Linked DNA regions of Homo sapiens. The protein of the gene in region 1 purifies or fractionates together with the protein of each later gene. This does not show direct contact. Each region holds a gene or a part of one and is shown in the gene's direction. Other genes may lie near its edges. The genes, in order: RRP12, RBM19, RSL1D1 and TSR1.

Region 1 (7,500 bases):
ACCCAGAGTGTTGGCATTACAGGCGTAAGCCACCGCCCCCGGCCCACTTTGTATTTTCAGTAAGCCCATGAAGTGTAATATACATGTAAGCAGGGCATGGTGGCTCACGCCTATAATCCCAGCACTTTGGGAGGCCAAGGCGAGCAGATCACTTGAAGCCAGGAGATCGAGATTTGTCTGGGCAACGATAGCAAGATTCTGTCTCTTTTTTTTTTTTTTGGAGAAGGAGTCTCGTTCTGCTGCCCAGGCTGGAGTGCAGTGGTACGATCTCAGCTCATTGCAACTTCCGCCTCCTGGGTTCACGCCATTCTCCTGCCTCAGCCTCCCGAGTAGCTGGGACTACAGGTGCCCGCCACCACGCCCAGCTAATTTTTTATATTTTTAGTAGAGACAGGGTTTCATTGTGTTAGCCAGGATGGTCTCGATCTCCTGACCTTGTGATCTGCCCGCCTCGGCCTCCCAGAGTGCTGAGATTACAGGCGTGAGCCACCGCGCCTGGCCAAGACTCTGTCTCTTAAAAAAAAAATTAGCTTGGTGTGGTGGGTATGTGTCTGTAGCCCCAGCTATTTGGGAGGCCAAAGCAGGAGGATGACTTGAATTCAGGAGTTTAAGGTTATAGTGAGCCATGATCATGCCACTGGACTCCAGCCTGGGTGACAGAGTGAGGCCCTAGCTTTAAAAAAAAAAAAAAATTAGCCAGGCATGGCAATGCATGCCTGTGGTTCCAGCTACTCGGGAGGCAGAAGTGGGAGGATTGCTTGAGCCTGGAGGTCAAGGCTGCAGTGAGCCATGATTGTGCCACTGCATTTCAACCTGAGTGACAGAGGAAGACTCTGTCTCAAAATAAATAAATAAATAATTAAATCATAAATAAATGGGATTATAACTATGTACTCTTGTGTCTGGAGTCTTTTACTCAACCTAGGTCATGCATGATATATGTAGCAGTAGTTCCTTCTCATTGCTATACAGAGTCAAATACTATAGTATTCCATTATATATCAATATGTCACAATTTATCCATTCTACTCTATCTCTCTGTCTGCCTGTCTGTCTTATCTATCTATCTATCTATCTATCTATTCTAGACACAGAGTCTCACTGTGTTGCCCAGGCTGCAGTGCAGTGGCATGATTATAGCTCACTCTAACCTTGAATTCTTGGGCTCAAGTGATCCTCCTGCCTTAGTTTCCCAAGTGGCTAGGACTACGGGTGCATGCCACCACATGTGGCTAATTTTTAATTTTTTTTTAGAGATGGGGTCTCACTATTTTGCCCAGATTGGTCTTGAACTGTTGGCCTCAAGCAATCCTCCTGCCTCAGCCTCCCAACGCACTAAGATTACAGGTGTGAACCAGTGCATCCAGCCTCATTCTACGGTTGATGGACATTTTATTATTTCCATTGTGAACATCCTCCTATATCTCTTTTTTGCATATAAGTAAACATCTCTGTTGAGTAAATATGCAGGAAGGTATTGCTGGGTCATGGAGCAAGACTGTATTCAGTTTTAGTAGATACTACCACACAGTTTTCCAAAATGGTTGTATCACTTTATACTCCAATGGCAGCATATGTTGCCAGTTTCTCCACATCCTTACCAACATTAGTATTGCTAGTCTTTTTAATTTTAGCCATTCTGGTGGGTGTGTAGTGGCATTTCATTGTGATTTTAATTTGTATTCCCATGTTGATAATGAAACTGGTATCTTTTCTGTTCTGGTCTGTTCTTTTTCTTTTTTTTTTCTTGAGACAAAGTCTCACTGTGTCACCCAGGCTGGAGTGCAGTGGTGCTATCATAGCTTACTACAACCTCAAACTCCTGGGCTTAAGAGATTCTCCTGTCACAGCTTCCCAGGTAGCTGGGACCATGGGTGCACGCCACTGCACCCCACTATTTTTCTTAGTTTTTGAGGAGACAGGTCTTGCTGTGTTGGCCAGGCTGGTCTCCAACTCCTGGGCTCAAGTGATCCTCCTGCCTCAGCCTCCTAAAGTGCCGGTATTACAGGCGTGAGCTAGCATGCCTGGCCTGTTTTTCATATATTTATTGGCCATTTGGATATTAATTTTTGTGAAGTGCCTGTTCATGACTTTTTTATTTTTTGTACAATACATCATGATGTTCAGCTGTTTGTGTCTTTTGCCATTCTTCTTTTTTTTTATTTTTGAGACACAGTCTCGCTGTGATGCCCAGGCTGGAGTGCAGTGGCACGATCTCAGCTCACTGTAACCTCCACCTCCAGGGTTCAAGTAATTCTCCTGCCTCAGCCTCACAAGTAGCTGGGACTACAGGTGCCCACCACCACGCCCAGCTTAATTTTTTTTGTATTTTAGTAGAGATGGGGTTTTTCACTATGTTGGCCAGGTCTTGAACTCCTGACCTCGTGATCTGCCCACCTTGGCCTCCCAAAATGCTGGGATTACAGGCGTGAGCCACCACACCCAGCCGCCCATTCTTTTTTTTTTTTTTTTTAATTTTTTTTCTTTTTTGAGACAGGGTCTCACACTGTCACCCAAGCTGGGGTGCAGTGGTGCAATCACGGCTCACTGCAGCCTTGACTTTCTCTGGGCTCCCACCTCAGCCTCCTGAGTAGCTGGACTACAGGTTCACACCACCATGCTCAGCTAATTTTTGTATGTTTTGTAGAGACTGGGTCTCATGATGTTGCTCAAGCTGGTCTTGAACTCCTGGGCTGGAGCAATCCTTCCTCCCCTCTACTCCCTGCCCCCCGGCCTCCTACGGTGTTGGAATTCCAGGCCAAGCATCAGCCACTGCACCCACCTGTCCCTTTTGCCCATTCTTTTTATTGGATTGTCTGCCTTGTTCTTATTGATTGGTAGGAATTCTTTATATATTATAGATGTACTTTGTTAGTTCTATATATCTTCTTCCAAAGAATGCTGCTAAAGGTTTAGAATAAAGCTGCTGGGCAAGAGGGAAGAGAAATGTGTCTTTTGTAAGGTTTGGGATCTGGTTGAAGGATTTTAAGGAGGGTCTCAGGGGAGTGGGGATAAACTGGATCGGTTGCTGGTTCTGAGGTGGAATTAGGAGAACTGGGAATTGGCCGGATGCCAGGTGCGGTGGCTCATGCCTGTAATCCCAGCACTTTGGGAGGTGGGCAGATCACCTGAGGAAAGGAGTTCGAGACCAACCTGGCCAACATGGTGAAACTCTGCGTGTACTGAAAATACAAAAAAAAAAATTAGCCGGGCGCGGTGGTGCATGCTTGTAATTTCAGCTACTTGGGAGGCTGAGGCAGGAGAACTGCTTGAACCTGAAATGTGGAGGTTGCAGTGAGCCGAGATCGTGCCACTGCACTCCAGCCTGGGCACCAGAGCAAGACTCTGTCTCAAAAAAAAAAAAAAAAAAGAGAGAGAGAGAGAGAAATTGGAGAACCAGGGATTAATTAGGGATGGAATGCTGTCATAAGGCAAGGTGGCTTAGCAACTGAGTATCTCCAGTAATAAATGAAAATAGCAAAGCTTGTCTAGAACACCACTGACTGCTTTTTTCTCTTTTCAAGTCAAGCTAATTTTCACACTTTCAAGTCTCCATAAGTTTTGACTTTTCTTTTTTTTCTTTTTTTCTTTTTTTGAGATGGAGTTTCACTCTTGTTGCCCAGGCTGGAGTGCAATGGCGTGATCTCAGCTCACCGCAACCTCTGCCTCCCAGGTTCAAGCGATTCTTCTGCCTCAGCCTCCCCAGTAGTTGGGATTACAGGCATGCGCGACCACGCCCGGCTTATTTTGTATTTTTAGTAGAGACAGGGTTTCTCCATGTTGGTCAGGCTGGTCTCGAACATCGTGACCTCAGGTGATCTGCCCGCCTCGGCCTCCCAGAGTGCTGGGATTACATATATACTTTTATATGAAGGTATATGACTTTCATATAAATGTGTTTCTATGCTTAATTTTGAAAATAGATTTTCAAATGTAATATAAATGTACTTTTTGTTGTTGTTTAACTGCAAAAGAACTCCAGTTTTTTGTTTGCTTTGTTTTGTTTTTTTGAGACAGTCTTACTCTGTTGTCCAGGCTGGAGTGCCGAGGCGTGATCTCGGCTTACTGCAAACTCCGCCTCCCGAGTTCAAGTGATTCTTGTGCCTCATCCTCCCGAGTAGTTGGGATTACAGGCGCGCGCCACCAAGCCCAGCTAATTTTTTTATTTTAGTAGAGACGGGGTTTCACCCTGGTGATCAGGCTGGTCTCAAACTCCTGACCTCAAATGATCCACCCGCCTCAGCCTCCCAAAGTATTGGGATTACAGGCATGAGCCACCACGCTCAGCCAAACTCCAGTTTTATAAGGCTTACGCCTGTGGCCCTGAAACCTGGTCCTGGCTGGAGTAAGAACCCCATAGAACCCTTAGCAACCTAACTTCCTCCCTAGCAACGGATCTCCTTGGAGCTCCTCCCCATCCGAAGCCAGGAGGAGGTGTAAAACCGGATGTTGACTGTTTTACCATAGTAATGCACACGAATCCGGAAGTGACGCCAGAAGAAGAGGAAGTGAAGGCTACAGGGTATCCACGTGGGTTCTGAGCGTGTTTCTACGTCCCTGGAAGCCGGTCATTTAAGCTCATTCCTCGCCACGGCTTAGTCAACATGGGTCGCTCGGGAAAGTTGCCTTCTGGTGTCTCAGCTAAGTTGAAGCGCTGGAAGAAAGGCCACAGCAGCGACAGCAACCCCGCCATCTGCCGCCACCGTCAGGCCGCCCGCAGCCGCTTCTTCAGCCGGCCGTCAGGTAGCTGGGTTGAGACCCGAGCGCAGCCGGGGGCGGGGTTCCAGGCAGACCTGGGTCCAGATGAGTCTGGGGCCTCTGGGAGAGTGCGGGGCCAGGCATTGGACCTTTCGTCTCTTAGGATGTCGGATCTGGAGCCCTCTCTGAAGGGCAGTCCTTCCAATTTAGCAGATACAGAAACTGAGGTCCGCAGTAGGGAAATGTCTTGTGTAAGGTACCGCGGGTGTCAGAGTTGAGACAGATGGCTTGGACCTTGGGTAGCTCTTTACAGAGCGCGTTCACCTTCATTTATTTTGCAGGCCCTCTGAATGTAGCTCCCAGCCGATTCCCAGTGGCGTTTATGCCGCTGCTACAGGGAAGCAGAAACTTTTACATGGAGGATTCCCTTTCTCCTTGGTTTTTCAAGTTTTTAGGCATACAGTGGTTTTATGAGACTGGCTGTGTTCAGAATTCAGCCTCTCGGGTTGGAGATTTGGCCTGGGCTGGTTTGTTTCCCAGGGGTTGTTCTGTTCTCTTGACCAAAAGGAGGCTTGGACCTTATCTTGTGCCTCTGGCTCTCAGGAAGGAGTGACCTGACAGTCGATGCTGTGAAGTTACATAATGAGCTGCAGTCAGGGTCCTTGCGCTTGGGCAAAAGCGAAGCCCCGGAGACGCCCATGGAAGAAGAGGCGGAGCTGGTTCTCACCGAGAAGTCCTCGGGTACCTTCCTGAGTGGCCTTTCCGACTGCACAAACGTCACCTTCAGCAAAGTACAGCGCTTCTGGGAGTCCAACTCGGCTGCCCACAAGGAGGTAGGGGCGAGGGTCGGGAGGGCCATAGGATAGTGAGGAGAGGCCAACTCATGCCTTTTCTTCAGCTCTGGCCGACAGGTCTCCGATGACAACAGCTGGTATTTCTGGATGATGCGTCATCGCTCCTCCCCTTTATGTCTCCTCCTAGGGCAGGTTCTACTTTCTGCTTTTTATAAGAACATCTCCTCTGCTTAAGTACTTGAGGGTAGAAATATTTTCCAAACATTTCTCTCCTCAGCTATACCTAACACAGCACTTTTACACAGAGTATTTTCAATAAACATATGTTGAGTAAATAAATGCTGAGTAACAGTGATTAGGAAACGTTTTATCTAGCAAGAACTAAATTTATTTACTTTAATTTAACTTAATTCATGTATTTATTTTGAGACAGAGTCTCGTTCTGTTGGCCAGGCTGGAGTGCAGTAGCGCAATCTTCACTCACTGCAACCTCCATCTCCCAGGCCCAAGCAATCCTCCTGCCTCAGCCTCCCAAGTAGCTGCCATTACAGGCATGTGCCACCACGCCCGGCTAATTTTTTTTTTTTTTTTTTTAGTATATTTAAATAGTGCATTATTCAAGTAGCTAATTTTTTGTGTGTGTGTATTTTTAGTAGAGACGGGGTTTCACCATGTTAGCCAGGCTGGTCTCAAACTCCTGAACTCAGGTAATCCGCCCACCTTGGCCTCCTAAAATGCTGGGATTACAGGCATGAGCCACCGTGCCTGGCCTTACTTTTATTATTTTATCTATACTATAAAGTTATATATATTTTTTGTTATTGAAATAAAAAATGTCAAAATTCTAAATGATATCAAAATGATATAAGAATAATATAATGTGATGGTAGATCCCCCAACTTGAATCATTCACAGAGCTCCTGTTAATGGGTCATTGTCTGTCTTCCTGGACCAGCTCTGTCCAATAGTAATCTAAATTCAAGCCACATATGTAATTTAAAAATGTTTAGTAGCCATATTAAAAACTGAAAGAAACAGGTAAAATAAATTCATCTTTTTATTTTTTTCTGGAGCCGGAGTTTCGCTCTTGTTGTCCAGGCTAGAGTGCAATGGCACGATCTCGGCTCACTGCAACCTCCGCCTCCTGGGTTCAGGTGATTCTCCTGCCTCAGCCTCCCGAGTAGCTGGGATTAGAGGCGTGCGCCACCATGCCCGGCTAATTTTCTGTTTTTAATAGAGACAGGGTTTCTCCATGTTGGTCAGGCTGGTCTCAAACTCCTGACCTCAGGTGATCCACCCGCCTCGGCCTCCTAAAGTGCTGGGATTACAGGTGTGAGCCACTGCGCCCGGCCCAAATTAATCTTAATAATGTACTTTATTTAACTCAGTATCTTTAAAATATTATCACTTCAATGTATAATCAGTATATTTTACTACAGCATTATTTTTATGATACCAAGTCTTCAAAATCTAGTGTATAATTTACCCATATACCCCTACTTAGATGCTAAATTTTCATTGGAAATACTTGATTTGTGTCTATTTAGAGTTCATAACATTTATGGTTGTACAAGTAGATTTGCCTACTATGAATTACTACGAACCTATTTGCCAGGTTGTTACAAATATATGTTTTCTAGTAAATAGATCAAATATTTTAAATTATGAGTAGTTGAAATTTAAAAACTAAATTTTCAGGCTGGACATAGTGGCTTACACCTGTAATCCTAGCACTTTGGGAGGCCGAGGTGGGCAGATCATTTGAGGTCAAGAGTTTGAGACCAGCCTGGCCAACATGGTGAAAACCCATCTCTACTAAAAAATTAGCCTGGCATGGTGGCATGCGCCTGTAATCCCAGCTACTTGGGAAGCTGAGGCACGAGAATCACTTGAACCCTGGAGGCAGAGGTTGCAGCGACCCAAGATCGCACCACTGCGCTTCAGCCTGGGTGACAGAACGAGACTCTGTCTCAAAAAAAAAAAAAAAAAAGGCCGGGCGCGGTGGCTC
Region 2 (7,023 bases), on another chromosome or scaffold:
GCCATTTGCATCAGAACCTCTGGAGGTAGGATCCAGGCATCAGTGGGTTCCTAGCTGATGCTACCAGACAGCTGGATTGAGAACCAATGGCCTTTGAAAAGGAAATTGCTGCTACATAGCCTGGGTCTGTTCATGCTTTTCCTGTTGAGACCCCCATCCTAGGGAGGCTGGGCTAGTGTCCCCCTCTGCGGGGCAGGCTTTGCTATGCTGTGCCAGTAAGGCTGGAGCCAACCCTATCTGAGCTCAAGGTCCTGCTTGGAAAGTGTGACCACTTGACTCTTCAGAGTCCTAGTGCGGCTGCTTCCTCATCTGAAAAGTGGGACAATGATGTTGCCTAGCTGGTGGAATTTCTGTAGGAAAGTCCAGAGCCAGCCTGCTGCTTAGAGCCAGCAGGCGCCTGAGGAGTGGTCCCTGCAGCTCGCCCCTTGGCCTTATCTTGGGCAGCTGGATTTCCCCTTTGCTGGGCACTGCCTGTCCTCTGGGGTGGCCTCACAGGACCCTTTGATTGTTAGCTTTCATGTTTGCCTGGCACCTCAACGGGCCGGGCCCTGGGCTAAGTGCTCTCATGCTTTATCTCATCAAATCCCCTGTGGTGGGTGCTACTACTGTGTCCTGTCTGCAGAAGAGTAACTTTGGTAACTCAGAGAAGGCTGGGACCACCAAGTGGCAGCACTCAGGTCCCACCTCGTCCTGTCCACCCTGAGCCCCAGTGTGGCCCCCATGGCTGGTGGTTTAGTTTATCCTGTGGAGTTTTGTTCACTGCCATATCCCCAGCATCATTCCTGGCACATAGAATATGCTGGGTCATGCTTGCTAAGAGTGACTGAAGGCAGGAATCCTTACGGTCCCCATGAGATAAGCAGAGCAGGCACCGTCCCCGTTTAACAGGTGGGAACACTGAGGTAAGGAGCTTAGCAGCTCCTGGGAGTCCCACAGTGGCAGAGGCCAGTCTGCGGCCCAGGCTCCTGCCCACCCGCTCTGCACAAGGACCCTCTCAGATCATACCTAGTTCTTAGAAGGACTCGCTGTGTTTTAAAAAGGCACAACTGGCTGGACGTAGTGGCTCATGCCTATAATCCCAGCACGTTAGGAGGCCAAGGCGGGTGGATCACTTGAGCTCATGTCCAACATGGTGAAATCTCATTTCTACTAAAAATACAAAAATTAGTTGGGCCTGGTGGTGTACGCCTGTAATCCCAGCTACTTGGGAGGCTGAGGCACAAGAATCACTCAAACCCGGAAAGCAGAGGTTGCAGTGAGCCGAGATCGCTCCACTGCACTCACCTGGGTGACAGTGTGATTCTGTCTATTTAAAAAAAAAAAAAGGCACAGCCCTAAAACAGCCTCCTGTATCAATAAAGGGACATTGGCTTGGTCTTAGGAGCCAGGCCAGTCTCCTGAAGAGTACCCTTTATTCTGTGCGTACCTGATGTGTGCCTGCTGTACACAGAGCCCTGAGATGCAGACCTATCTGGGTAGGAGAGCTCTGCCCGTGGGGGCTGCAAGATATGAAGCCAGGGAGGACAGGGAGAGACCCATGCAGAGGCACCAGCAGCTGAGGGTGGGGGTCTGGTTCAGCCAGCCTTCCAGAGCAGGCAGCCTCCCAAGCCAGGCCAGCCCCCGGGTGCCCAGCCCCCCTGCGGTACCCACATCATGGCACCCTCATACTCCCCAAGGGTGGGAGCTACAGGTGGCTGGTGTCCCCCAGCAGCCTAGGACTGCACACCACTGAGTCTGAAGATTGTGGAGCCTCATTCTGGCCTCCACACTCTGCCCCAACCTCCTTCCTCCCCTCGCCCACCTGTGCCCCCGCCCCCTGCCCTTCACCCCGGCCTCTTGGAATCAGTTCTGTCTCCGACTTAGCGGAGTTTGTGGAAGCCTTGCCTATCCTGTGTCTCGGGAAGTAGCAACTCAGGAGCCTCCAGGAACAGGAAGAAAAGCCCCCATAAGTGAGGCTGCGTGTCTCCAGGGGCAGCTAGTGCACAGCCTCATCAGTTACCTGTAGGCAGGGAGGGGACAGGTCTGCCACACTCACAGGTTAGCCATTCCAGGTTCAAGAGAAACGAGAGGTGCAGATTCTTATGTAGCATCTCCCTGTTTTTGAACATTAGTCACTGATTTCTGTATTCATGGCAAATCATGTCAGCAAATCCAGACACTCTTCTGTGGGCCCACAGTGGGAGGCCCTGCTCCATCCCATTGGTCACTTTTTTTTTTTTTTTTTTTTTTGAGACAGAGTCGAGAGCTGCTGTTGCTATCATCGTGTTATAGAGGAGGGGAGCAGCCCACCCTCGTGCTCTCAGTAACAGATTCCATCAACAGCAGTAAGAATGACCAACCTATATTGACAGCTTGCCGTGTGCTAGGCACTATTGTGAGGGCCTTACATACATATATTCATTCTTTTAATACCCTCACACACCCTAGGCGTGTAGATTTCATCACCATTCAGTAACTGCAGAAACTGAGAGGAGCCCAGAGAGGTGAAGCAACTTACCCAAGGTTGCCCAGCCAGGAGCAGCAGGGTTTGATCCTGGCAGCTCACCCACCCAGCACCCTGCATCTAGCACCCTCCACCCTGTACCTCAGGCCTCTCCACTCAGAATCCAGCCCTGGGCTTCCTGGCCCAGTGCTTTTCCCCTCCCCGGACTGTTCACGCCTGCCTCATCCCAGGGTTCCTTTCAGAACTCCCTTCTCCCCTTATCAGCCACGCTCTTCTCCCCCGGCTTGCCTTTCCTCAACGTCTGCTTCCAGAACAAAACCCCAAGAAGCGCTTTCTCTTGTCCTCCCGACGCACCCCCCCGCCCCCCCGCCCTTTCTCCCTGCCTGCGCCTTTCTCCCTGCCTGCCTGCGCCTCCCATGCAGGGCCGACAGCGCCAGCCAGGGAAGGGAGAGACACAGGCTGGCATTCTGTCAAGGAATTAATTGAAAAATAAAATCATTAGGTGGGAACTCCAGAAATGCAAAAATGGTGGTTGGAGGTTGGTGGGGAGGGGGGCAGGACTGGGGGGTTGTCGGGGGATGGCTGAGCTTTTTGTCAAGTTAATTTCTCGGGTATTGATGTTTGGTGACATTCACTTGTTGTTTATCTTCGGGTGCAGCTGTAATACTGAAAGAAAATGCACAGCTTGTTTCGTTTATTTATTTTACACCTTTCTCCGGTTCTGCATTATGTTTGTTTGGTGAAAACCCACTGAGGCTTTTGATGTCGGGGAAGTGGGATTTCAGCAGCTGTTCGCTGCAAACAGGGTGCTCCTCAAGGAAGCAGGGCCAGCGGGAGGTGCGGGGTGTCATTCGGTGGGAACTCGGGGCCTGACATGTCCTCCAGGGGGCAGTTGGGGGCCCAGCCTGAACCCTGGCAGATATGCCAGGCCCAGGAGCACGGAGGCTGGCTTATGATACATGAGTACATAGTTGGCAGGTAAAGGAATGAGATGTTTTGGTTCATCAAGGCCACAAAGCCAGGCTCCGCGTAAGAGCCCCCGCCCCATGAGTGCTCACTGCCCCAAAGACCAAGAGAGACACGAAGTCAACACCTTTCCTATCAATAATAGTAACACAGGTGTTGGTCTCAGCACCATCGACTGAGCCAGGGGCTGGGCATTGCCCTTTTTACTCATTTCAGCCTCACCACAACCCCTAGTATTTCCATTTTACAGGTTAGAAATTGAGGCACAACTATCTGGTTCTTTCTCCATCTCCCCCTGCCAGACCAGAAAGCCTTAGGTGGGGCCAAGCCAGGCTTGTTCCCCACCATGCCCGACCCAGAGCAGGTGCTGCAGGTGTCTCCGTCATGTGAGGGGATGAGAGCATGGATGAAGGCTCTGAACAACTGCTCTTGGCCTCGTCTCAGCTGCTGTTTGTCCTTCAGCAACCTACACTACTTGACCCTCAATTTTCCCTGTCATTCACTCCCTCAGTCGCTCAGCACACATTTATTGAGCATCTACTATGTGCCAGGCACAGTTCTGGGCATTGGGAATGGAACAGTGGACAAAACAGGCAGAAACCCCTGCCCTCCTAGAGCAGATGTTCCAGCCAGGAAGACAGATAATAAAGTGGAAACATGACACACAGTGAGACCGGGAGACATGCTGTGGGGGAAGTGGACAGGAAAGGGATTAGGAAGTGTACATCAGGGCACTCTGGAGGACTTGGAATTTTAAATAAGGAGGGAAGCTTCACTGAAAAGGTAAGGCCCCTGAGTGGCTCCGTGGAGGAAGAGCATTCCAGACCAAAGGAACAGCAGGTGCAAGGCCCTGAGGTGGGAGTGCTGGAAGCCAGGAGCCAGCAAGGGGCCCGAGTGCCTGAGCAGAGTGGGAGGGAAGCAGAGAGGTGGCAGGGCCTGCTCAGTAGCCCTGGCAGCCGACGTGACAGCTTTAGCTTTTCCCCAGGTGAGATGGTGCCCCTGGAGGCTTGAGCAAAGGAACAGCATGCCGTGATGGAGGATTTAACAAGCTCCCTCTGGCTGCCGTTTGAGACCAGACTCCTGGGAGGAGGGCAGAGGAAGCCAGAGGCAATGGTGGCACGGCCCAGGGGTGCAGGAGCATGGGGAAGAAGCACCCCAAGTCCAGCTCTATCTTACAGGTTGAGCCGACACAATGGATGGGGCTAGAACTCGCCCCTCGCCAGTCCCTCCAAGTTGTCAGGATGTGGGAGAGAAGAAAAAGTCCCATGCCGCCACCGCTGGCCATCCCTTAGACCCCAGGCCAGGCCTGGCCCAGGAAGGCAGGGACCCTGCCCCAGGAGTGAGCTGCCATCCCCAACTCATATTAGCAGATGGGAGGGGCGTCAGTGATCGCCTGTGGGCCCTGTTTTGTTGCGTTCTATTTTCCAGTTCCTATTACCTGCCCACAAATTCAATTTCCAGAGGCCATTGTGCACCTCCAGGGCTGGCGATTATAAGGAAACCAAGAGTGTCTAGGAGGTCACAAGGAAGGAGAGGAAGCCGGAGTCCGAGCCCCGGGCCGCCAGCCCCCACCACCCCAGCCCACCCTGTCCCCCTCTCCCTTTTCATGATTAACAATGATGGGTAGAGCTGCAAGGCCTTGAGGCTCTCAGGTGGCAGGCAGGTGGGCACCTCCCGCACCTTCTGCACGCTCACCATGGGGCAGGCTCTGCCGTCTCTCTCTCACCCTTGCTCCGTCCGCTCATTCCCCTTTCTGGGATATTTCACAAGCACTTGCTAGGCACCAGGCAGTGTGCTAAGGCCAGGGACACAGCAGTGAGTGAGACAACATCCCACACAAAGAAAGGCCTGCGGCAGTGTGGGTAATAAAAAGTGCCAGGGGGTGGGGTGGCATTGGAGCTCAGAGGTAGAGGGAGAGGGAGATCTGGGTGCTGCCGGTGCAAAGGTCTTGAGCAGGGGGAGGTGGGCCAGCTCCAGTGATGCCTCCAGAGGAACTTGGGGCTTTCTTAGGGAGTGGTGGATCTGACGCACATGTTTTAGAGGGATCCCTTGGTGGGAGGGGGGTCTCTAGTGAGGGGCTGAGAGGTACTTGGATTGGGGTGCAGCCGTGGAGATGATGAGAAACGGGTTCAATGTTTGAATTGATTTGGGAGGGACGAGATTGAAGAAACAGGCTCAGAGAGGTGAAATCGCTCACCCAGGAACACGCAGAGGGAAACCAAGTCTTCATCTCTGGGCCAGGCACTGTGCTAGCCCTGGGGAGGTCTCAGTAGAAAAGGCTAGGCCGCTGCTGTGAGCTCCAGGGAGCTCACAGCCTGCGGATAAATGGAGGTAAAGGGCCTCAGGGTGGTTTATTTGGGGAGGTGTTTGAGCCATGGAAAGGGAGGGGATTTGGACAGCCTCTTTACACTGCCTCTGTACAAATCAAGCCTTATCTGTGAGCAAGGCTGCTCATCGACAAGTGGTTAGACTAGCAGAGGGACTGACAGAGGAAGCCAGCCTGGATTCCAACCTCGCTCTTTTCCTGGAGGGCCAAGGGGCCCCACACGTCCTCTCCTGCCACCATTGATCCCCTTGGAGTTCTCTGCCTAGAACCCGAGACTTTCATAAAAAGCAGAAAGACTGTGGGCTTAGGTGTGACTGGGGTTCGAATCCTGGCTCCACCGCTTCTTAGCTGAGTGACTTCAGACCTGCCTGTCCGTGCCTCAGTTCCGTCTCCTACAAGAGGCAGCATACCACCTGCCTGTGGGGTTGCTGACAGGAGTGGAGCCATGGTTCATGATGGTACCTAATCAGGAGGTGCTTGTGGGGCTAAGCCCACCATGCCCTTTCCTACCTCCGTGCTTTTCTTCATGACCCTGAATCCCCTCTCCTCACAGAAAACTCCTCTGCATTCTTCAAAGCCCAAGTCAAATAGTCCTCCTCTTCAAAGCCACCTCTAATTGTCATTCCCTCCACGCCTCCTCTGGAATCCTTGAGCTTTGCATCTGTTCTATTCACCCACCACTTATCGAGCACCTGTTGTATGCCAGCCATGTACTGCACCATTAGCCTGGCCTCCAAGAAAACAGAAACAACTTCTACTTGTCTCCCCAGCCGTTGTCCACTGCTTGGTCCAGCCTCTCTGAAGGGTTTCAGCTTCCTCCAAGCCAAGCTCTGACCTGCTGTGAGGAAGCAGCACAGGAGACCCTTTCTCTCTTTTTTCTCAAGGGAATCCTTTCCCCTGCGGGTAGAAGATGGGGAGGGGATGGCCAGGGAAGCAGGAGAGTTTCTGGGGGTGCGAGGGAGGCAGCCCCGCCATGGTGATGCTGAGACTAACTCTAGTGTTTCTCTCTCCTCCTCATTTCCCCTTTGATTCTCTCCCCTACTCCTTATCTTTCTTCATTGCCCCATCCTCTCTCCACCTCCCTCTGTATCTTCTCTCCCTCCGCTCTCCCCAACTTCCCTCTCTTGCATTCTCTCGCTTCTGTTCTGTCTCCCCGCACCCTTGTTCTGCTCATCTCTCCCCTCTCCCTCCTTCCTCTGTCATTTCTCTCTTCCTGCCTCCCAACCCTCTCGGCTGTTCTTTTCTCCTCTCTTGCCATCTGGGCTCCCACAGAGCCCCCGAAGAAAAA
Region 3 (7,023 bases), on another chromosome or scaffold:
ACTGAGCAAAACCCTGTCTCAAAAAAAGGAAAAGAAGAAAGAGTTATTATGTTTATGGAGCTAAGAGTTTTAAAGAAGGTAAAATTCTGAACCAGGCTTGTCCTGATTAAGCTAGGTTTTTATAGCGCATTACAGTACGTGTGCACATACAGCAACATATGTATAATAATTATATATGCAAGCATTTGGAAGTCTTTAAGTATATTTTAATTCTTGTTGTATCCCAAGTGTTAATTGATATTTGGGCCTGTGTGTTTTTGTGATTTACTTGCCATTGAAAGTGAGTTTTGTTTTTTGTTTTTGTGTTTTGAGACGGAGTTTGCCTCTTGTTACCCAGGCTGGAGTCCAGTGGTGCGATCTTGGCTCACTGCAACCTCCACCTTCCGGGTTGAAGCGATTATCCTGCCTCAGACTCTCAAGTAGCTGGGATTACAGGCACCTACCACCGTGCCTGGCTAATTTTTTATAATTTTAGTAGAAACAGGGTTTCACCATGTTGGCCAGGCTGGTCTTGAACTCCTGACCTCAGGTGATCCATCTGCCTTGGCCTCCCTAAAGTGTGGGATTACAGGCTTGAGCCACTACTACCGGCCATGAAATGTATTTTTAAGTGTTGTTCTTGGTGCATTATTTGCTTAACTAGCATGACTAAAAGTTATTTAAATAACACTAAGTTTATCGCGTATTCTGTGTGATACAAACATGCATAATGTGTGTAATAATGCTTTCCTCGGTTTCTTTTCACGTATTTTGTAGGACCTTGCCTCATAGTATTCGATCAGATTCAGAAGATATCTGTTTATTTACGAAGGATGAACCCAATTCAACTCCTGAAAAGACAGAACAGTTTTATAGAAAGCTTTTAAACAAGCATGGAATTAAAACCGTTTCTCAGGTAGGAAGCCTGGTTAATATTTTCAAGTTATTTAGAGGATTTAATTCAGGCGAAATGGTATCACAAATACATTGCTATATTTCCTAGTATTTTTCTTCTACTTTTCTCTTTTTAATTTAATTTGTGGTGGCGTGTACATCAGTAGCTTTTATATCTTGCAAATTATAAAAGAGGTGGCTCGTGTCATTCCTCTGTACTTCCACAGCATCTTGTTTTTCTCTGATTTGCTGTTTTGTAGTTGGTGTACTTGTCTTTATTACCCTCTGGATCTAAGGTATCTAAGTTTTTTTGTTTGTTTGGAGTCTCGCTCTGTCGCCCAGGCTGGAATTCAATGGCAGGACCTCGGCTCACTGCAACCTCCACCTCCCAGGTTCAAGCTATTCTCCCACCTCAGCCTACCGAATAGCTGGGATTACAGGCACCTGCCATCATGCCCGGCTAATTTTTATATTTTTATAGAGACGAGGTTTCACCATGTTGGCCAGGCTGGTCTTGAATTCCTGAGCTCAGGTGATCCACCCACCTCGGCCTCCCAAAGGGCTAGTATTACAGGCGTAAGCACATACAGCAACATATGTATAATAATATATATATGTTGCCCACCTAGATCTAAGTTGCTTTAGCTGGGGTCTTTTCTCATTTGTCTCAGTGTTCCCAGCATGTAGCGTAGTGCCTGGCACATTTTAGGCCCTCAAGTGTTCATTAAAGTATAGAGGCATGGCTCTAGGACATTTTTAAATCCAAATCCAAATTGTTGCCTAAGTATTTCTTCTCCTTGTTTAGATTCCTAACTTCTTGTTTTTATTCTTCTCTATACTTCCTAGATTATCTCCCTCCAAACTCTAAAGAAGGAATATAAATCCTATGAAGCCAAGCTCCGCCTTCTGAGCAGTTTTGATTTCTTCCTTACTGATGCCAGAATTAGGCGGCTCTTACCCTCACTCATTGGGAGACATTTCTATCAAAGAAAGAAGTAAGTTTCTTAGTAATGACTGGACTTTAGCAGCATGAAGCTTCTAGGTGTGTATGCATTGTGTTCTGAATGCCTGTGTGTTTATTTTGTAGAGTTCCAGTATCTGTAAACCTTCTGTCCAAGAATTTATCAAGAGAGATCAATGACTGTATAGGTGGAACAGTCTTAAACATTTCTAAAAGTGGTTCTTGCAGGTAGGTAAAAGGCATTCATGTGTGCCTCTTTTAATCTTGTATTTGACAATGATTTTATATATACTTATTCGTTTTGTTTTGTTTTTTGTTTTTGTTTTTTTTTTTTGAGATGGAGTCTTACTCTGTCTGCCAGGCTGGAGTGCAGTGGCACCATCTCGACTCACTGCAAGCTCCGCCTCCTGGGTTCACGCCATTCTCCTGCCTCAGCCTCCCGAGTAGCTGGGACTACAGGCGCCTGCCACCACGCCCGGCTAATTTCTTTTTGTATTTTTAGTAGAGACAGGGTTTCACCGAGTTAGCCAGGATGATCTCGATCTCCTGACCTCATGATCCGCCCGCCTTGGCCTCCCAAAGTGCTGGGATTACAGGCGTGAGCCACTGCACCTGGCCTTTTTAAAAAGATTTTGTTAATGGCTCCAGATCCTTTTTTAAAACTAAAATCTATTCCTCAGAAGTGATCAATTCTCGGGTCAGGTGCAGTGGCTTATGCCTGTAATCCCAGCACTTTGGGAGGCCTAGGCAGGAGGATCGCTTGAGCCCAGGAGTGCAAGACCAGCTTGGGCAACATAATGAGACCCTCTCCCCCAGCCAATTACAGAAAAATCAAGAACATTAGTCAGGTGTGGTGGTGCATCCCTGTGCTCCCAGCTACACAGGAGGCTGTGGCAGGAGGATCACTTGAGCCTAGAAGGTCAAGACTGCAGTGAGCCATGTTCTTGTCACTGTTCTCCAGTCTGAATGACAGAGCAAGACTGTCTTTAAATGAAAAAAAAAAAAAGTTCAGTTCTCTAGAACAATGTTGTCTGATAGCACTTTCTACTGTGATGGAAATGGCCTGCATCTGTGCTGTCTCATACAGTAGGCACTATTTGTATGTAGCTATTGAGCACTTGAAATGTGGCTACTGTGTTAGAAGCTGAATTTTTAGTTAATTTAAAATAGGCACATGTGGCTAGTGGCTGATGGTCACTGCATTGGACGGGGCAGCTCCAGATACTAAGAAAAGCAAGGAGAGTAAGATGAATGCTTGGAGAACATGACTAGTTCTAGGCTTTGAGCTTGTCCTTTATCGTGCCACTGCACTCAGTGGTGCAGTCACAGTTCACTGCAACCTCCAACTCCTTGGCTCAAGCAATCCTTCCACCTCAGCCTCCTGAGTAGCTGGGACTACAGACACACATCACCATACCTGGCTAATTTTTCAATGTTTTGTAGCGGCGGGGTCTCACTATTTTGCCCCATCTAGACTTGAACCCCTAGACAAAACCGGTCCTCCTGTCCTGGCCTCCAAAAGTGTTGAGATTATAGGCGTGACCCACCACACCTGGCCTCAGATTGTCCTTTAAAAGCACCATATTACCCCTTAACGTGAAGATCCACCTCATTCTTGGTTTAACTTCCTATTAAATGAATTCAGCACTTATCCTGTTCATCTGCCTATTTGGTGTGTGTGTTGTCATATTGGTTTAACCTTACCCTGGATACTGAGCTAGGCGGAGCCCCCACACCTAGTCTTACCTACTAGAACAGATGTTTTAGGGCAGTGATTGCTTCCAACCTCTGGCTGAGCAAAGGATGCGGTTCAGGCTATTTTATTAGGCTGAGAAGTGACTTAAGTTTGTATTATTGGCAGTGTATCAGCTTGGGGAGGTAGGGCAGGTTTTAAATGTATTGAAAATACATTTTATGAAGTACTGCACTTGCTGACTGCGGTGTGGAGATGGCTAGCTGCCAGTAAGGCAGAGCTGTAGGCCACTGCCCTTCCACCCAGAGATTCCCCAGGAGCCGTGCAGACCCAGTGGACACAGTCGGCAGAAAACAACACAGACTTCTTGCCTCTGCTCACCAGGGAGGCCTGACCCCAGGGGAGTGTCTCCAGGTAGAGCAGAGCAGGGTACTGGTGGGCAGGACAGGTGGTCTCTGGTGTTGTCTTTAGCCTGCTGCTGGGAATCCCTTCATCAGGTGTAATGAAGTAGCCTAGAAGAGTTGGTCACGGAGCCTAGACCCCTACCCCTTTGGTTAAAGGCTAATGTCAAAGTAGTGGCTCATGGAAGTGGTTGGCTAGAAGTTCAGGCCTTGTTTATGGGACCCATGAGTATCTGGGAGAAGAAGATGGTACCATGAAGGCAGGTAAAGGAGCAGCAGTCTCCTGCCACTGGGGATTTTCCAAGGCAAAAGCAACAGCTTAAAGAAAGTTGCAGACAATTGAGAAAAAAAGAAATCATTCTTTATTTCCTCTCTTACCTTTCCCCAGCAAAAGAATTTATTTTCCTCTTCCACTTCTGTTCCTCTCCCTTCTTCCCCCCCACCATCTTTCCATCTGGGATGCTCAGGTGTGCTTGCAGGCAGGTGGTGACAGGCACAGGGAGTGGGCAGTGCCCAGTCTTTGGCTGAAGAGAGAGAGGAGCAACAGTCCGTCTCATTCCTCATTCCGCAGACACTGTGCCGACAGTGAGCCTTCCTTCTGGCTCACTTCCTTCTGGCCCCAGCGCTGAGCCCTCCAGGCTTCCCACTGGGCTTCTGCCTGCACTCTGTTTCACCTGAAGGGATGGTCTTGCTCGTAGCTGAAAGACACTATTCCACCAGGGACAAGAACTATTTACTCTTTTTTTTTTTTTTTTTTTTTTTTGAGACAGAGTTCTTGCTCTGTCGCCCAGGCTAGAGTGCAGTGGCTTGATCTCAGCTCACTGCAAGCTCCGCCTGCCGGGTTCACACCATTCTTCTGCCTCAGCCTCCCAAGTAGCTGGGACTATAGGCGCCCACCACAATGCCCAGCTAATTTTTTTGTATTTTTTTAGTAGAGACGGTGTTTTACCATGTTAACCAGGATGGTCTCGGTCTCCTGACCTCGTGATCTGCCCACCTTGGCCTCCCAACGTGCTGGGATTACAGGCGTGAGCCACCACGCCCAGCCACAGAACTATTTATTCTTGAACATGGCGGCTGGGTAGAGCAGTAGAACTATAGAGAGAGCAGGTGACCCTCCTGGAGGTAGGTCCCTTTAGAACAGCTTGAAGGCGGACTCAGCGACATGGGGTTGTCTAAGATAAAGGTAGAACCTCCTCTGGCCCTGCCTCCCAATGCGCCTAACCTCACAGTCAGGTGCTACCAGCTCTTTAATCACTGCCTCGGCTGGGCATGGTGGCTCACGCTTGTAATCCCAGCACTTTGGGAGACCGTGGCAGGTGGATCAGTTGAGGGCAGGTGTTTGAGACCAGTCTGGCCAACACAGTGAAACCCCATCTCTACTAAAAATACACAAATTAGGCCGGGCGCAGTGGTTCACGCCTGTAATCCCAGCACTTTGAGAGGCCGAGGCAGGCGGATCACCTGAGGTCGGGAGTTTGAGACCAGCCTGACCAACATGGAGAAACCCCGTCTCTACTAAAAAAAAAAAAAAAAATACAAAAAATTAGCCGGGCGTGGTGGCGCATTCCTGTAATCCCAGCTACTCGGGAGGCTGAGGCAGGAGAATCGCTTGAACCCAGGAGGTGGGGGTTGCAGTGAGCCAAGATCACGCCATTGCACTCCAGCCTGGGCAACGAGTGAAACTGCATCTCAAAAAAAAAAAAAAAAAATTAGCTGGGCGTGGTGGCATGCGCCTGTAATCTCAGCTACTAGGGAGGCTGAGGCAGGAGAATTGCTTGAACCCAGGAGGCGAAGGTTGCAGTGGGCCGAGATCACGTCACTGCACTTCAGCCTGGGCGACAGAGCAAACTCCATCTCAAAAAAAAAAAAAGTCACCCCTTCATGATGTGACATTTTACTTTAGGTAGAAGGAATTTCTAGTACATGAAAGATGATAATCTTCCTTTAAAACATATTTAGGCTGGGTGTGGTGACTCATGTGTATAATCCCAGCACTTTGGGAGGTTGAGGCAGGAGGATCACTTGAGCCCAGGAGTTCCATACCAGCCTGGTGGATCACTTGAGCTCAGGAGTGAGAACCCATCTCTACAAAAAATACAAAAATCAGCTGGGTGACCTGTAGTCCCAGCTACTCCGGAGGCTGAGTTGGAAGGATTACTTAAGCCCAGTACGTTGATTGTGCCACTGCATTTCAGCCTGGGCGACAGGAAAACCCTGTCTCAAAAATGAAATAAAATATATTTAGAACCTAAAGATTTTAATGGGATTTTTTTGTTTGTTTTTTTGTTTTGTTTTTTTTTTCAGACTGTGTTTTTCCCTGTTACCCAGGCTGGAGTGCAGTCGCCAGATCTGGGCTCACTGTATGTAGCCTTGAGCTCCTGGGCTCAGGTGATTTTTCTGCCTCAGCCTCCTGAGTAACTGGGATTACAGGCATGTACCACCATGCCCAGTTAATTTTTGTTAGTGTGGTAGAGACAGGATTTTGCCATGTTGCCCGGGATTAATATTTCTACCTTTTTAAAAGAAAAAGAAAAACTTGAGGATTATGTATTTATATTTCTCATATACCTGCCTGGTTTATTTTGAAAAATGGTTTTTTAAAATCTTGTCTAATACTATATTAAATTTCAGTGCTATACGTATTGGTCACGTTGGAATGCAAATTGAGCACATCATTGAAAACATTGTTGCTGTCACCAAAGGACTTTCAGAAAAATTGCCAGAGGTACAGTATTACAGGTGCATCAATTGATTGTTCATTTAAAAGAAACAAAGTATATGTAGACGATGTTACTCTTTTCTTTGTTTCAGAAGTGGGAGAGCGTGAAACTCCTGTTTGTGAAAACTGAGAAATCGGCTGCACTTCCCATCTTTTCCTCGTTTGTCAGCAATTGGGATGAAGCCACCAAAAGATCTTTGCTTAATAAGAAGAAAAAAGTTAGTAGAATTTTAAATACTTACAGAATGAATAATGAAGGGTGTAAATTCAGTCACTAGGAGAGAAGTAGACCATCATCGCTGCCCGACTTTTCAGTTATCTTCTGGTTTTGTGGTGGTTGTGCTTTTGTCACTTTACATGAGGTAAAATGGGT
Region 4 (7,005 bases), on another chromosome or scaffold:
ATAGTCCAGTTTCTAAGCACTGGTGGAAAAAGTCATCATCCTCTTAAAAAATATTTCCTGGCGGTCGCAGTGGCTCATGCCTGTAATCCCAGCACCTTGGGAGGCCAAGGCGAGGTCAGGAGATCGAGACTATCCTGGCCAACATGGTGAAACCCCATCTCTACTAAAATACGAAAAATTAGCTGGGTGTGGTGGCATGTGCCTGTAGTCCCAGCTACTTGGGAGGCTGAGGCAGGGAAATCGCTTGAACCCAGGAGCTGGAGGTTGCAGTGAGCTGAGATCGCACCACTGCACTCCAGCCTGGCGACAGAGCAAGACTCCGTCTCCAAAAAAAAAAAAAAGTATTTCCCATTATCTGTGACTAACCTCCAAAATTGAGCCATATCTATAATCCCAGCATATCCACCTCAAGTGTAGACACAAGTACTTTTCTATTTTGTTTACACTGTTCAAGTCTCTGTCACTAGACTGCTTCCTTTTGCAGGAGAATCAAGATTTCTCTTTTCATTGGGGAGAGCAGAATTGGGCTTAAATGCTGACTTGATACACCCCTGGCCTAAGAAATCCTTTTTTGGGCCTCTTCACAGCAAAGACATAATGAAGCTTCTCCCACAAGCGGGAAAGCTGATGGCTTCAACTACATCTTTACCAAGGGGAGGGGTGGGAACAAACATTAGGGCCTAGTAGCCAGGCCATGGCTAACGCATGAGAACCATCTAGAGATTTCCGGGACTTTTTTTTTTTTTTTTTTTGAGATGGAGTGTTGCTCTGTCGCCCAGGCTGGAGTGCAGTGGCACGATCTGGGCTCACTGCAAGCTCTGCCTCCCGGGTTCATGCCATTCTCCTGCCTCCCAAGTAGCTGGGACTACATTCGCCCGCCACCACGCCCAGCTAATTTTTTGTAGAGAGAGGTTTCACCGTGTTAGCCAGGATGGTCTCGATCTCCTGACCTCGTGATCCGCCCGTCCCAGCCTCCCAAAGTGCTAGGATTACAGTCGTGAGCCACCATGCCCAGCTTTCTTTTTTAGACGGAGAGTTGCTCTGTCGCCCAGGCTAGACTGCAGTGGTTCGATCTTGGCTCACTGCAACCACACCTCCTGGGTTCAAGCGATTCTCCTGCCACAGCCTCCCGAGTAGCTGGGATTACAGGTGCCCACCACTGTGCCTGGCTAATTTTTGTATTTTTTGTTTTTTTCAGTAGAGATGGGGTTTCACCATCTTGGCCAGGCTGGTCTGGAACTCCTGACCTCGTGATCTACCCGCCTCAGCCTCCCAAAGTGCTGGGATTACAGGCGTAAGCCACCGCGCCTGTCCACTTTCCAGGATGTTATGAGAGTCCAGACGCTTCCCCAACCCTGAAACTCTAATTACGGCTCAGCTAAGGTAAACTTTTTTTTTTTTGAGACGGAGTCTCACTCTGTCGCCCAGGCTGGAGTGCAGTGGCACAATATCGGCTCACTGCAATCTCCACCTCCCAGGTTCCAGCGATTCTCCTGCCTCAGTCTCCCGGGTAGCTGGGATTACAGGCACGCACCACCACCCCTGGCTTATTTTGGTATTTTTAGTAGAGACGGGGTTTCACTATATTGGCCAGGCTGATCTCGAACTCCTGAGCTCAGGTGATCCACCCACCTAGGCCTCCCAACGTGCTGGGATTACAGGCGTGAGGTTATATATATATATATTAGGGAGACGGCATAGAGACTCAAGGTCACACAGAATTAGGTCCAGACTATTCCAAAATGTATGCTTTCCAAACACCAGGCCTCGAAGTCTCCAAAATCAGCACATTTATTTACCAAACAGTCACGGAGTGCCTACAGTATGCCAGGCACTGGATACAAGGCAGTGGACAAAACAGAGGGTCTCCTGCCCTGGTGGAGTTTACTTACCAGGCAGACAACAGCCACAGAGGCAGGCAGGGGAAGGAGGCCCAATGTATTCTAAGCTGCGCTGTGGGTTGGAGCTCTCCAGCTCTCATATGGGAGTGAGTCATTCACATGGTCACTGCCCCCCACCCGAAATGGAAATGGGCTTTTGGGCAGGGTCAAGGTAAACGGAGTTAGTAGAGGGAAGGACTACTTCTCTTTCTGAAGTAGGGGGGCTTCCCTCAAAAGGGAAAAACTTCCGAGTGTTAAAAACCATTCCAAACAAGCCCCTGGTCCCTGGCTAAGGAGGTGGGCGTGGAGGGAGAAACTGAGGTGTGCGGCGCACCCCTCCGGCAGCGATCACTCCGTAGCTGGAGGCACAGCGGACGTCGGACAAGGGGGAGCTCAGCCCGCACGACACCCACTTAGGACGTGGGGAAGCTCGGCCCGCACGACACCCACCTGCGCCGCGGGAGCTCGCGCGGGGCCCCGCCCCCTCCCCTGGCGGCGCGGGCACTGAATGGGCAGCTCCGGATCCAGCCATCCCCGCCATCGCCGCCACCCCTCCCCCGGCCTTGGGCTCCCAGCGCCGCTGCCGTCACTGGGCGGGGAGCTGCGGGGCTGCGAAGCAAACAAGCCGGGAGCGCCGGCCGGGTCCCCCGGGCAGAGGGGCGCTGCCCTCCCCCATCCGAGAAAGGGGAAGGAGGCGCAGCCCGTCCAGGACCCGCCCCGCCCGGCCCAGGTTCGGCCCGGGTGCCCGCGCCGGGGGGTGGGCGCGGACCTTTCTGCCCCCTGGGCCGCGCGGGCCAGGGCGCGAGCCCCCCGGGGTTCTTGACTCGACTTTACCTCCTTCTTCACGTTCCACAGCAGTTTCTCTTTGACTGCGTCCTCTGCGCTGCCCATGGTGTGGCAGGAGGCGGCGCCGAGCGGTCCTCAGAGCCCCCGCGCCCTCGCCGCCTCCGCGCCTCTCGGCTCAGCGCCCCACGCGCAAGGCGGAGCCCCCGCCCGCCGCGCTCCCGGCCCGCCGCCGCCGCCGCCGCCGCAGCCACTGCCCGGTGCTCGGCTCCGCAGCCATCTTCCGAGCCCCGCACAGACGTCAGGCGGCAGGCCCGGCCCCTTCCCACAGCCGGAGGGGGGTTGCGCACAGCGACGGGGGATCGGGGCGGGGAGAGGCCGTGCGCGCCTAGGGGCGGCAGACCCGGGCGCGCGCCACGGGGGTCGCTGTCATGGCAACGCACCCGCTCCCGCATGGAGGGCGCGAAGCCGCATTGTGAGCGCTGGCCCTGGAGCCCGCGGCCCCGCGGCTGAGAGCGAGCCTCGGTCCCGCTGAAGCTCCCCTGACTTCTGCCTGCTCCCTCTCCCGACGGGACGGAAAGGGCCGGGGCTCGGGCATGGGGTCCCCTGCGGTCCGAGCCTGCCCACGGCGAAGCCGGTGCAGCCTGGCCCCGTGACCCCTCTGAATCCCCGTCCGGCCGTCGCCGTGCAGTTGTCAAGTTTCTGGGAAGATTAGTGGGAGCGCAGCCGCCCGAGCCCGACGGCCGGAGGGTCGCGGCCAGTCCCCCTTGCCGGGTCGCCACGTCCCACAAGGTCCTTCCCGGCCGCTCCGTGGGAGGCGGGGCGCAGGTTGGAGTAACAGGGACGGGCTTGAGCTGGTACGGAACCGGGCAAGGTGAGAGAAGTGTCTTCCACGCGATTCCCAAGCCTCGCTAGGGAATCGAGGGAGAAGAAAGGTTGCTCAGAGTGATAAAGAACATGCCGTTGCAAACGGAAGAGCAACGTGCCCGAATCTAGGTGACAGGAAGGGCTTAGGCCTTTTCGGCACGAATGGAGCCTTCCAGTCAACATGCTTCTACGTGATGCAGCTTTATAGCGCAAAAAAATGACAATGCAAGGGGTACAAACAGCCCTGCTAGACCAACAGCCCGAGCCTCGACAGTCTACATCCGGCGCCTTCAAGCCCCCAACCACACACTGCGAAGTGGGAAAAGTTCCCAGCGCGGCTTGGCGAACCCGCTAACACGGCGCTCTCACGAGCTGCTGGAAAAGACCTTCGCGAGAGGGCGCAGGGAGTCCCGCTCCCTGGAGGGCCCGCCCCCTTGGAGGGGACCGGAAGCGCTTGTCCTGGCCCGGAAGCAGTGCTGACTCCGTACACGCGCGCTGCGGCATGGCGGCCCACCGCCCCGGCCCGCTCAAGCAGCAGAATAAAGCTCATAAAGGCGGACGGCATCGGGGTCGGGGATCTGCACAGCGGGACGGCAAGGGTAAGGAGATAACGTAGAAGGAATAAGGGCTATTTGGCCGTTATTAACTCTTTTTCCTCATGCCCAGACTGAGCTTCTGTCTCCCGTCTGGGCTCCACGCGAAAGGCCCTTTCTAAGGTGGGCGGAGAGGAGTCCCTTTTCTTGACCTTGTGGGGCCGATCACACCAGCCCCTTCTAATCTGCCATTCAGGCCGTCTGGCACTGAAAACCCTAAGCAAGAAGGTGAGAAAAGAACTCAGCAGAGTCGACCAGAGGCATCGCGCCAGCCAGCTCCGAAAGCAGAAGAAGGAGGCGGTGAGAGGAGCGGGATTTGGGAGAATGCGGCTTCTCTGGTGTTCTAGGTGGCTAATGCCTCGAAGTGGAAAATGAGACCGGGAGGAGGGTCCAGGGACAGAGCATAGCCCTAGAGCACGTGTCGAGCGTGCAGGTCTAGCATTCTTTGCTTTGGTCAGAATTCCTGCCACCCCGCTGGCATACCTGTGGTCTTTTACTAGAGAGATGCTGGTTTTGGGTAGGGGGAGCATCTGTGGGAGTGGAAATGCAATGCTGGAGTGAAGTACTGAGACACTGAGATGTTCTCGGATATCTTTCTATTTTCAGGTTCTGGCAGAGAAGAGACAGCTGGGTGGCAAGGATGGCCCTCCTCATCAGGTACTGGTGGTGCCCCTGCACAGCAGAATTTCCCTGCCAGAGGCCATGCAGCTGCTTCAAGATAGGGACACTGGAACAGTACACTTGAATGAATTGGGAAACACCCAGAACTTTATGCTGCTGTGCCCCCGCTTGAAACATCGGTGGTTTTTCACCTCAGCAAGGCCAGGTTAGAGTATACACCAATATTTTGTATTATGTTTGAGTAGTGGTATTTTTTTTTTTTTTTTTTAGAATAATGTGCTGGTGCCAACCACCTCTTCTTACTGTGTCTTCTATCTGCAGGGGATCTGCACGTTGTGTTAGACATGGCTAAAGTAGCTGATACCATCCTGTTCCTCCTTGATCCACTAGAAGGCTGGGACAGCACCGGTGATTACTGTCTTTCCTGCCTCTTTGCTCAGGGCCTTCCGACCTATAGTAAGTGAGTTAGCATTTATTGTGCACCTTTAATTTGTCAGGCACTATGCCTGGTATTTGATACAGGAATACAACTGATGGATCATATTCAGCTGGTGGTGGGATGTACACATATGGATTAAACTTGATCCATTGTTTACAGATTATCACTCAGGGTGTCTTTTTGTTTTTGGCTGTCCTTTGCCCAGAGAAACAAGGATATGAAGTTTGATTTCACTGTGAAATTCCTTCAGGGTAGTTCAGTGTTGGGCTTCCCAGTGATCTCTGGGCTTGCAACTGAGCTATTAGGTTGTTTGTGAACTGCAGAGGGATTTTTATGTAATGAAGCAGTAGGTCATGAAGCGTTTTCTCTTTCGCTTACAGCACTAGCTGTCCAGGGGATTTCTGGCCTCCCACTGAAGAAACAAATAGATACCAGGAAGAAGCTAAGTAAAGCAGTGGAGAAGCGCTTTCCGCATGACAAACTCCTCTTGTTAGACACTCAACAGGAGGCAGGGATGCTGCTTAGGCAGTTGGCTAACCAGAAGCAACAGCATCTTGCTTTTCGAGATCGGCGGGCCTACCTATTTGCCCATGCTGTTGATTTTGTTCCTAGTGAAGAGAATAACTTGGTGGGCACCTTGAAAATTTCAGGCTATGTTCGAGGGCAGACTCTGAATGTCAATAGGTTGCTGCATATCGTTGGATATGGTGATTTCCAGATGAAACAGATAGATGCCCCCGGAGACCCTTTCCCTTTAAATCCTAGAGGAATTAAACCCCAAAAGGACCCAGACATGGCAATGGAGGTAAGACTGATATTCTTAATTCATGTTCATATGAAAGTTGGCACAGGAAGGAAACTTAAATTCAGAGAAGATAGTCTGTACACTTAGGTGAATGAGGAGACTGCTAGTCTGAAGTAAGGCAATAGTCAGTTATAAATAGGTTGATAAATCACATATTTATCCAGCACTTTCTAGGTAGTCTGCACTGTGATTGGCTCTGAGTTTATAGAACACACTCAAGATGTGGTTGCTTTCCTCAAGGGACTTAATTGGGCTGGAACAAAATGGCATGTGTGAAATAAAGATTGAGATAGCATATGGTTAGAGTGCGGACCAGCAGTGGAAGTTGAGAAAGTAGACTAGCAAGCTTCACATAAGAGATCAGACTTGAGCTAGGTGTTGAGAAGGATAAATGTGATTTATGAGTTGAAGAGGGATAAAAGAATATCCTAGAAGATAAGAGACAGAATGAACCTAGGCACAGTGGTGGATCAAAGGGTTTATGTGAACCTTGAAGAAATCAGCTTGATGGGAGTGAGGTACGTAATAAATGGATAGGAGTGGGAGCAGATTAAGAAAGACCTCAAGAGCCAAGCAGAGACTTAAAATACCCTGGAAATTAGAAAACAGCCATTGGAAAAGTTTTGACAAGTTTTAGCATTCTGTCGCACTCATCTTATACATGAGGACTGATATTTCTGGGTCTTTCTGGTTACTGTGTTAGATTTAGGAGATTTTTGGTTCATGGTTGACTATCACCTGCTTTTGGTTTTCAGATTTGTGCTACGGATGCTGTAGATGATATGGAAGAAGGTCTTAAAGTCCTAATGAAGGCAGACCCTGGTAGACAGGAATCCTTGCAAGCAGAGGTTATCCCAGATCCAATGGAGGGAGAGCAAACCTGGCCCACTGAGGAGGAGCTGAGCGAGGCAAAGGGTCAGTATTGGTAAACTTGTCTGTAATTCATCTGACCTGGAATTGTGGATTTTCTGTAGCTGTTCCAAGTGAGGGCCCTATAGGATAGAGTGGGGTGGGGGT

What was found.
Region 2: the proteins of RRP12 (region 1) and RBM19 purify together in Homo sapiens (affinity purification with mass spectrometry; 2 studies listed by BioGRID and IntAct, with this or other methods). This does not show direct contact.
Region 3: the proteins of RRP12 (region 1) and RSL1D1 purify together in Homo sapiens (affinity purification with mass spectrometry; 2 studies listed by BioGRID and IntAct, with this or other methods). This does not show direct contact.
Region 4: the proteins of RRP12 (region 1) and TSR1 purify together in Homo sapiens (affinity purification with mass spectrometry; 4 studies listed by BioGRID and IntAct, with this or other methods). This does not show direct contact.

Annotation. Positions count from the first base shown.
Region 1 is NC_000010.11:97,398,336-97,405,835, reverse strand, and holds the start of RRP12 (RRP12-like protein), read left to right. Parts: upstream 1-4,495; 5' UTR 4,496-4,604; coding exon 4,605-4,743; intron 4,744-5,301; coding exon 5,302-5,531; intron 5,532-7,500.
Region 2 is NC_000012.12:113,823,306-113,830,328, reverse strand, and holds part of RBM19 (probable RNA-binding protein 19), read left to right. Parts: intron 1-7,007; coding exon 7,008-7,023. UniProt on the Homo sapiens protein: Plays a role in embryo pre-implantation development.
Region 3 is NC_000016.10:11,841,540-11,848,562, reverse strand, and holds part of RSL1D1 (ribosomal L1 domain-containing protein 1), read left to right. Parts: intron 1-756; coding exon 757-895; intron 896-1,719; coding exon 1,720-1,868; intron 1,869-1,960; coding exon 1,961-2,062; intron 2,063-6,562; coding exon 6,563-6,656; intron 6,657-6,742; coding exon 6,743-6,868; intron 6,869-7,023. UniProt on the Homo sapiens protein: Regulates cellular senescence through inhibition of PTEN translation. Acts as a pro-apoptotic regulator in response to DNA damage.
Region 4 is NC_000017.11:2,333,455-2,340,459, reverse strand, and holds the start of TSR1 (pre-rRNA-processing protein TSR1 homolog), read left to right. Parts: upstream 1-4,002; 5' UTR 4,003-4,032; coding exon 4,033-4,129; intron 4,130-4,319; coding exon 4,320-4,423; intron 4,424-4,729; coding exon 4,730-4,949; intron 4,950-5,065; coding exon 5,066-5,200; intron 5,201-5,563; coding exon 5,564-5,988; intron 5,989-6,743; coding exon 6,744-6,903; intron 6,904-7,005. Other genes in the region: SGSM2 (small G protein signaling modulator 2), read right to left, coding at 2,715-2,771. UniProt on the Homo sapiens protein: Required during maturation of the 40S ribosomal subunit in the nucleolus.